Regions from separate parts of the Homo sapiens genome. Here region 2 is linked to region 1. The links come from fine-mapping of genetic effects on gene expression. A gene starts in region 1. The other region holds a variant in brackets. All regions are shown on one strand. Distances are from middle to middle.

Region 1 (4,382 bases):
CGGGAACCTGGCACACAGTAGGTAGGCGTTCACCCAACATCTGTCATCGGACCCAGCACCTGGGCAGGGAGCCTAGGGGTGGAGTGGCGGCTTGGGGGACACAAAGGCCTCGCCAGCCCCCAGCTGCGCCCCTCGCAACGCGGGGGGCGGGAGTTTAGAGCCAGAGAGAGGGGGCGAAGGAATCCGCCCTCATTTGCACGTCGTCTGGGGCCCGGTCAATTTGCTTAATCACCGCTCTAAATGCCAGCGGGCAGCACACAATACGCGCCCATTAACAGGTTTAAAGTGTCGCAGCGCTCGCTTTAAATGAGAAAAGCAGGCGACAAAAGGGGGAAAAAGCCAAGTTCCTCAACTTGAAGAATGCCTTGGGTCGCCTCGAAATCATCTACGCGAGTTTAAAATTCGGAGCTAGCTCCGCAGAAAAGCTGAGGCCCCGGTGCGAGGGCTGGGGGTGGGAACGGGGGCTGTGAATAACCCGCCACGAAAACTGGGTTTCTTAGGAACCAGCCTGCAGCCGCCCAGTGAACCCGGAGTCGGAGGACAACGTCGCCAACCCAGCTCCCTAGGCCCCTTGCCCCACTGCCAGAGAAAGCTGACCGATTTCCAAGAAGGAAAGCGAGACCCCCCCAAAGCGGGCACAAATCCAAGTTTCCTTCGGTGCAGGCGAAGAATTCTGGAGGCCAAGGAAGATCCCAGAGGTGGACTCCAAAACCTCAACCCGCAAGAGGGGAAAAGTTAAAGTAACTTTACTTTCATCCAGGCACTGGCCAGCGCAGCCTCGCGCTCGGCCGCCAGAGAGTAGTTCAACTCCGCAAACAAGTTCTGCTTGGGATCGGCGCAGAAGGCCCCATCCCCCACTCCATGGCCAAGCCCGGGGGCGCATCCTGCGGGCCGCGGCCTCCCACCCTCCCCGGCGCGCCCGACGGGCACTCACGGTGCGCGCTCCTCCGGGAGACAGGGGTCCGTTGGAGAGGTACGGGCTGCTCAGGTCCGGGATCATCAGGAAGGGGTACCCAGGGTACGGGGGTCCTTTAAAGAACGCGCTGTCCTGAGGCCTTCTCACTGCGAACAAGACCAAGGCGAGGTGAGGCCCAGGCCCCCGGGACTGACAGCGCCGCGGCAGGGGGCTCGAGGCGGGAGCTGGGGACCCCAGCGCCCCCCACGCGCGCCCCACGGGGGCTGCCGCCAATAAAGGCGGAGGGCAAGGGTGCGTCCACCCAAGCAAGGGGGACGGTGGGCCGCCCGGGCTGAGCAGCGGAGCGCAGCGGGAATCGAGAGTGGGGGGCTGTCCCAGCGGGCACATACCTTCGGCGAAATAGTCCCGCGGCTTCTGGAAAGTGTCCCGGACGGGCTGCGGGCGCCTCTCCGCCTGCGGAGGAGACACAAAGGCAAGAGCGGGTGAGCGGACGCAGGGCCGGGATCCCCCGGGGGTGGCCGCGGTGCTTCCTTACCTCCGAGTCCGAGCTGCTGCTCTGGTTCTCCGACTCGTTGACCAGGGACGACTTGACCTCGTCTAGGTCCCGCTGCGCCGAGGCGCTATCGCTGCTCGGCTCCTGCTCCTCGCCCCCCTCGTCCTGGAAGGGGATCAGCTCGTCGTTCGCCCCGAGGTCGTCCCCTCCGCCGGCCGCCCCGGCGCTGGAGCCGCCGCCTCCCCCGCTGCCGCCGCCGCCGCCGCCGCCCCCGCCGCCGAGCTGGGGCATGGTGGGGCCGCGGGCCGGGGCCGCCGCTCTCGGAGCCCCTAGCCGCCCGCGCCCTGCCCGGCCCGGCCCGGCGCCCCTCCCGCCCGCTTGCGGGCCCGCTGCGCTAGCCGCCGCAACAAAGTTTGACAGGGCGTGGCCCCGCGGGAAGCGGGCCCGGCGCTGCCCGGCCGGGGCGCAGGCGGCTCGGCTCGGGCCCCTCCGGCAGCGCCGAGCCTAGGGCTCCCCAACTCGCCACCGCCGCCGCCTGCTCCGCCGGGGCGTCCCAGCCCCTGGCCCGCCGGGGAGGGGCGAGCGGGGAGGGAGGGAGGAGGGACCGCCGGGCTGGGCAGGGGGGCCGGAGGGAGGAGCCCCGGCTGCAAGCTGACACCCGCGCGCCTCGCGGAACCCGGAGAGCTGCGGTGCGCGCGCACACACACACATACACACGCACTCACACTCACACGTTCACACTCGCATCTTCCAGGGGCTGCGTCTCCCTGCAACGTGCACCGCCCCCAACCCCCTCCTGCGCCTCACACTGCACCCTCGGCGGCCCTCCCCACGGCCTCCCTGGAGTCCTGGAAGTCTTGCGCCCACCCCTCCGCATCCCCTAACTTTCTCCCAAAGAACCTCCAGAACTCCGCGCAGGTTCCCACCCCCTCCCACCGTATCGGCGCGCGGGCGGGCGGCACTGCCCCCTGCGGGAAAGCCTCGGACGCACATACTGGCCGCGGGGCCCTCCCCCTGCCTAGAGTCCCTCCGAGTGCGCGAGCTGATGCACGGACTAGGACACTGGGGACATCTATGGAACCCCGGAAAATGCCCGGCGGCTTTCCGCGCCTTTTTCCTGTGGGGTTCCAACGCGACCCCCGGCCCAGGTTTTCAACCTTGTACAGATATACAGATTTCCCTGCTGAAATCTTGAAGATCACCTTTTCTTCATTGTTTGGGACTAGGTCCTAAATCGAAAAATCGCGGTCTTGGGTTCCAAAAGAATTTGGATTTGGTTCATTGAGAGGGAAAATTGCCTGTCCAGTGATCTCCGAAGCCATTCACAAAGCTGCGTGAGTAGCCAGTGAACACGAGAAAAATGCTCAACCAGCCTCATACCTAAGTAATGCCTGTGGTGCGAGCGCCACGGCCCGCGCCTGGAGTTCCATCTACTCCCGAGGCCTAGGCAGGAGGATCGCTGGAGCCCAGGAGTTTGAGACCAGCCTGGGCAACATAGCAAGACCTTGTCTCCAAAAAAAAAATTTTTTTAATAAAGAAATGCCTGTTACAATGACATTAAGATGTCGTTTCTCTCCAACCTGTGCGGGAAAGTTTGAGGAAAATGAATATCTTGTGTTATCCTCCGTGGGGAACTATTAGAGCATAAACTTTGAAAACAGCTTGGAAGGCAGTATGGAACTATGTAAAACTATTTTCAGCCCAACTGGCAGAAGAGTTTCTACAGAGGTGCCCGCACATATGGGCAAAGCCACATATGCTAGGTTCAAAGCATCAGAGAGCTTGGTGACATGCATTCTTCATCTTTCTTTACAGTGACAGTCCATGCAGCTGGCCAGTTCTATGCAGTGTCCCCGCCCCTCCCCCCACCCATACACACACACACACACACACACACACACACACACACACACACACACACAGGCACATGGACCAAGATTGATTTTGGAGGAACATCTTTAAATGAAACACTATATATGACACTCACTATTTTATTTTTGTTTTTAAAAAAATTATACACATTTATTTCTGCGTAGAAAAAAATCTGAGAAGATGCAAATTATTATCAATGACTATTTCTGGGAAAGGATAAGTGAAAGGAGATAGTTTTCTGGTTTCTATGAACTTTATAACAAGCAGATATGCCTTTTCTAATTTTTTACACAATACATGAGTACAGTCTCATAAAGCGTTTTCAAATAACAGATGTATCTTGAGCAGTATCGAGTAACAAGTAAAAGTTCCTCTTTCCCCCTCAGGACACAGGACCCTTCTAATTAACCACTTTCAGTTAACTGCCTCTGGTTAACCACTGTCACTAGTTTGGTATATATCCTTCCAGACACTTTCCTAGGCAGTTATGAACATATGTAAACGTATTTACAGATATTCTGATGTACATACATAGAATCATACTCTTTGTATTATTGTGTGTTATTTTATTTTTATAAGATTTAAAAGTCAGACGATTTTTCATGTTTATGGTCCATAAATATATGAAAAACCTATTGTACTAGTTTTCTGCTGCTACTGTCACAAATCACGAAAACTTGGTGGCTTAAAACAACAGAAGTTTATCCTCTCATAGTTGTGGAAGACAGAAGTCCACTGTCAGTTTCACTGAGTAGAAATGGAGGTGTTGACGGGGCCATGCTCCCTCTGGAGGCTCCGAAAAGAATCTACCCTTGTCTCTTGCAGCTTCTGGGGGCTTGTGACCACATCACTCCCACCCTTGCGTCTGTAATCACATTGCCTTCTCCTTTTTTTGTCTGTGACAAATTTTCCTCTGCCCCCTTCTTGTAAGAAACCATACTTGTGGCCGGGCACAGTGGCTCACGCCTGTAATCCCAGCTCTTTGGGAAACCAAGGCAGGTGGATCACGAGGTCAGGAGTTCCAGACCAGCCTGGCCAACATGGTGAAACCCTGTCTCTACCAAAAATACAAAAAATTGGCCAGGTGTGGTGGCAGGCGCC
Region 2 (4,382 bases), 170 kb before region 1:
CCTTATTTCTAGAGAAGTATGGGCTTCTCCCTGATCTTAAGAGTCCTCTATAAATGCAGTCGCTGGCCGGGCGCGGTGGCTCACGCCTGTAATCCCAGCGCTTTGGGAGGCCGAGGTGGGCGGATCACGAGGTCAGGAGCTCGAGACCATCCTGGTTAACACAGTGAAACCCCGTCTCTACTAAAAATACAAAAAATTAGCCGGGTGTGGTGGCAGGTGCCTGTAGTCCCAGCTACTCGGGAGGCTGAGACAGGAGAATGGTGTGAACCGGGGAGGCGGAGCTTGCAGTGAGCCGAGATCGCGCCACTGCATGCACTCCAGCCTGGGTGACAGGGTGAGCCTCTGTCTCAAAAAATAAAAGAAAATAAAATAAATAAAAATAAATGCAGTTGCTTTCCTTCACCCTTCCTCCTCTTGCAGAGGCTGTTCCTGGGGTCTGAGCGTCCTCTGCCCAGAGTGTGCACTTACATAGTTGTCCCGGGCTGACCAGGTTGGGTAGAGCTGCGAGTGAAGCTGCCGCTCCTTCCGGGCCAGCTCGTAGTACTTGGCCTGTTCTTCTCGAGACAGGTTGTGCCACTGGGGGAGAGAGGGTCAGAGACCACACGGAGCCATCAATGCAGGGACGCTGCCTCCCTGGCCTGGAGGGAGAGGGCAGGTCTTACCTTTCTTCCAAGGATCTGGTTAATGGCTGCACTTTCCTTCAGGGTGCACTCAGCCACCACCTTGGCCCTCATCTCCTTCATATACAACATGAAGGCATTCAGAGGCTTCTTCACGTGGGGCTTCTTTTCCTCCTCCTTTTTCACGGTGACTGGTGATTTCCTGGGAAGGCACGTGGTTGTAGGTTAGCATGTCAGGTGTCACACAACTCATCAATCCCCACCTGTCACTGAAACACCGCTGATTGTCTCTGGGGAGGGGCGCGGGCTGCCTGGATGCTAATTCAAGTGGCCCCATGGCTGCACTCAACACCTGAGTACCTTCCTCCCGTAGTTTCCCACCTTTGAACGATCTCCACGCCAGATTCTTTGAAAATCTACTCTCCAATTTCCTGACAGAGGAACAGAGCATGGTGGGGTTGCTGAGATGAGCTCTCACTGGAGCTGGCAGGTGCTGGCGGCGGTGACAGGACACAGTGTGGGGCACTCTGGGCAGAACCAAGTTGGGAGGGGGTTCTCTTGGGATCTCCAGGGAGCACTGACTTTGGCTTCCTGCCATCTTTATGGTACACGGGCAAGGTAAGGACCCTGGTGCTCATCTCAGCTCGGCCACCAGCCCACCACAAGTCCTTAAGAAAACACTGTCTCCTTTCTGGGCCTCACCTTTTCATATATCTTACGGTGGGGTGTTAAAAGCTTTCTCAGGTTCTCTTTCAGCCTCTGAGACCTGACAGTAAAACTTTCCTTAATAAGAGAGAAGATGCACCATGTCCCTGAAAGGACAGGGACCCAGAAGGTCAGAGGGAGTAAGTCCCGAGGAAGAGGGAGGGCCTGGCTGGGGAGGCTGTGATGCCTGCTGAGTGACACCAAGAGAGAAGAGTACATGACATTTGCTGCTCAGAGTGTGGCCACCCCTCCCCACAGCCTGCACCCTCCCACCTGAATCCAGGCTGCCGCTTACTTACACGCTCACTGCAGGGCTCAGGCTGGGGGGTGCCGGTTCCTGCTTGACGATGGGGGAGACGATGGCAGGGTGGGGGATCCCTGAGGTGGGCAGGCCAGGGTGGGCAGGAGCCACCATGTGAGGAGAGAACCGACTGGAGACCAGGCTGTGCACCGGATAGAAACAAATGGCAACAGAGGGGTTCAGGCTGGATACCTGCCACCCAGCAGAGGACACGGTGGCTCTCTGCCTTAAGGGCACAGGCATGTCCGTGGGGCAGAGTCTCAGGACTAGAAGGCTATTTGTCGTCTTCTAGAAAACCAGGTTTGGGAGATGCTTAATGGCTCTTCCTTCTCCCCACCAACACCCAGGCTGCCCATCTGGTGCTGGAAGCAGGTGGGATGAAACACACAAAAGGGGAGGAGGGTCAGAGGCCCGGGCATACTGGGGAAAAGAAGGGCTTAGGCTGTGGGCAGCTTTCCTCTGTCCTCAGAGGTTCCACTGTCAGGTAGAGCTGGTCCCTGAGACAGAAATCCCCTTTCACCGTCTCCTCTCCTGACATCATTTCAGGAAAAATTCATCTTCTCCCAGTCCCTAGCTTCAGTGTGATATACAGACAGTCCGTGACTTAGGATATTTTGACTTTACGATGGTGCAAAAACGATATTAATTCAGTACTCTCCTTGACCTAGATGGGGTTATGTCTGGATAAAACCATCATATGTTGCAAATATTCTAAGGGGAAAGTTGTGTTTTCAATGTACGACGGGTTTATCAGGACGCGGCTCCATCCTAAGTCGGGGAGCATCTGTCCTCAAAATGCTTCAGTGCCAGAGCCCATGGCAGGAGGCAGAGTGCTAGGGCTTTGCAATCCTTCTGTTGGAGAGATGGGGACAGTGATCCTGTGGTCTCCATTCTGACCTGGGGGTGGGGAGCGCGGGACGTGAGAAGATGCTTGATCAAAGAGAG[G/T]TGGGGGGAGGGTGAGCCCTGTGCCTGCTCATTAACTGGCAAGAAAAAGCTGTTTCGTGGTCAGAAATGGCGTGGTTGCTAAGACAAACATGCGGACAGCCCCAGCCCCGGGACTCACCTGGACATCGAGGCGTTCATGGCGAGGGCGGGGTAAGGGTGCCGGAAGCCACCGGGAGGAAGGGAGTACATGGGCTGGCCTTGCCTGTGAGGGGGAGGAAATCTGGTCAGCATATTGGGAAAGCTCAGGGCAGAGGAAGAGAGGCACTTGGGAAGAAGGGATGAGAAATATGGGAAGGAAGCGGGAAGGTAATGCTGGGAGCACGCTGCCTGGGCGGGGGCAGGGAGGCCTAGTCCTGGGCTTGCCTCTGAGGGGGCTCCACTGTGCAGGGCGCGCAGGGCACAGAGGCAGAGCTCAGCGCAAGGAGGGAGCAGGGGGAAGAGAGGCTGTGGGTTCCTTACTGTGGGACGAGCCAGCCGAGGGGGTGGGGGATTTGTCCGACAGCTCCGGGAGAGAGTGGGTAATACGGTGACAGCTCGGATGGGTGAGGGGGCCGGGGGATTCCTGCTTCCAAAGAGAGATATGTCAGACTGTTCCCTCGCCCTGCCAGAGCACCTTAACGAACATCAAATGGGAGCATCCTGCCCTATGTCCCTGGTGCTCTGGAGCCTAGCAGGTGCTTGTGTCATTGTCCTTGCCCTCTGTCAACTCCCTAGCAGCTCTCACCAGTCAGTCAAGGACATATTCAGGGGAGGCAGGACTAATGCACCCCCTCTCTAGCTGCACGGATTCTATCTCTGTGAAGAGTATCTTCCAGCTGGCTGTGATACAGAAGCCAGCGTCCTGGAAGAGAGGGACAGGACCCACAAGACCAATGACAAGAGTCACTGGTGAACCAAGTCTCTAGAAAGCCCGCCTCATTCATGGAGAAATAAACTTTGGATTCCTCCTCCACATGTGTCTTCCTCATTATCTGTAACTTGTAGTGACTGTTATTTCTCCAAAGAGGGGCTCCAAAAATGCTTTGCCTTCCCCTGGCAACTCTGTGTGAATGCTATAAAGACAGTGGCTCCCTGGAATGGACAGGTCTGGTGGGCAAGTTAAAAAAAAAAAAAAGAAAAAAAAGCCAGTTCAGGTTGGGCATGGTGGCACACCGGTAATCCCGGCACTTAGGTGAGTTGACTGCTTGAGTCCAGGAGTTTGAGACCAGCCTGGGCAACATGGCAGAAACCCATCTCTACTAAAAATACAAAAATTAGCTGGGCAAGGGCATGGTGGCATGCGCCTGTGGTCCCAGCAACTCGGGAGGCTGAGGGAGGAGGACTGCTTGAGCCCGGGAGGTCAAGGCTGCAGTGAGCTGAGATCACACTACTGCACTCCAGCTTGGGCGACACAGCAAGACTGTCTTAAATAAATAAATAAATAAAAGCCAGTTTGGCCTCACTGCTTTACGGTTGCACTTCTGTGTCTGCTTAGACTGATGAATCTATTTAAAAATGTTCAGTTTAGGGCAAACATGTCTTGGTGTAGGGAAGCACGGCCCACAGCTGGGCTAGACTTGGGCAGAGCCACCCCACACACTGCCTATGGAGCCAGGCCCTGTGCTTTACTGCATTTAATTCCTGTGGGCCTTATCGTGACCCTATGGTGGAGAAGGTACAGGGGAGGCACAGATGAAAAAAAAAATGACAAGGCTAAAGTTAGCAGACAAGGTCCAAAGACTCCTGAGACAAAGAGCCATGATTTGAACCCAGGTCAGCCTGATTCAAGGGCTGTTATGTTCCCACAAAAGAGAAGCCCGCCTGCCCTGCAG

Direction of the effects. Positions count from the first base shown, and alleles are read on the strand shown. Sizes are in standard deviations (SD) of each study's normalised expression.
In carriers of allele T in region 2, the expression in cerebellum of the gene that starts at base 1,993 in region 1 tends to be lower than with G alone (moderate effect, 0.60 SD a copy in GTEx).

Evidence for each region.
Region 2: its variant is fine-mapped to the expression of TCF7L1 in cerebellum (GTEx, PIP above 0.99). The same link has a PIP of 0.9 or more in cerebellar hemisphere.

What each region holds. Positions count from the first base shown.
Region 1 is chr2:85,131,003-85,135,384 of GRCh38, reverse strand. It overlaps TCF7L1 (transcription factor 7 like 1), which reads right to left and starts at 1,993. Exons shown (of 12, transcript NM_031283.3): 1 at 1,452-1,993; 2 at 1,306-1,369; 3 at 935-1,062. The coding sequence starts at 1,700. RefSeq lists enhancers at 1-233, 234-808, 1,384-1,958 and a silencer at 2,324-2,393.
Region 2 is chr2:85,302,646-85,307,027 of GRCh38, reverse strand. It overlaps TCF7L1 (transcription factor 7 like 1), which reads right to left. Exons shown (of 12, transcript NM_031283.3): 6 at 3,031-3,133; 7 at 2,690-2,773; 8 at 1,625-1,768; 9 at 663-822; 10 at 469-576. Among named protein-coding and RNA genes, the nearest start is that of TGOLN2, 23 kb to the left of the region's middle. RefSeq lists an enhancer at 315-815. The variant G/T (reference allele first, on the strand shown) is at 2,572.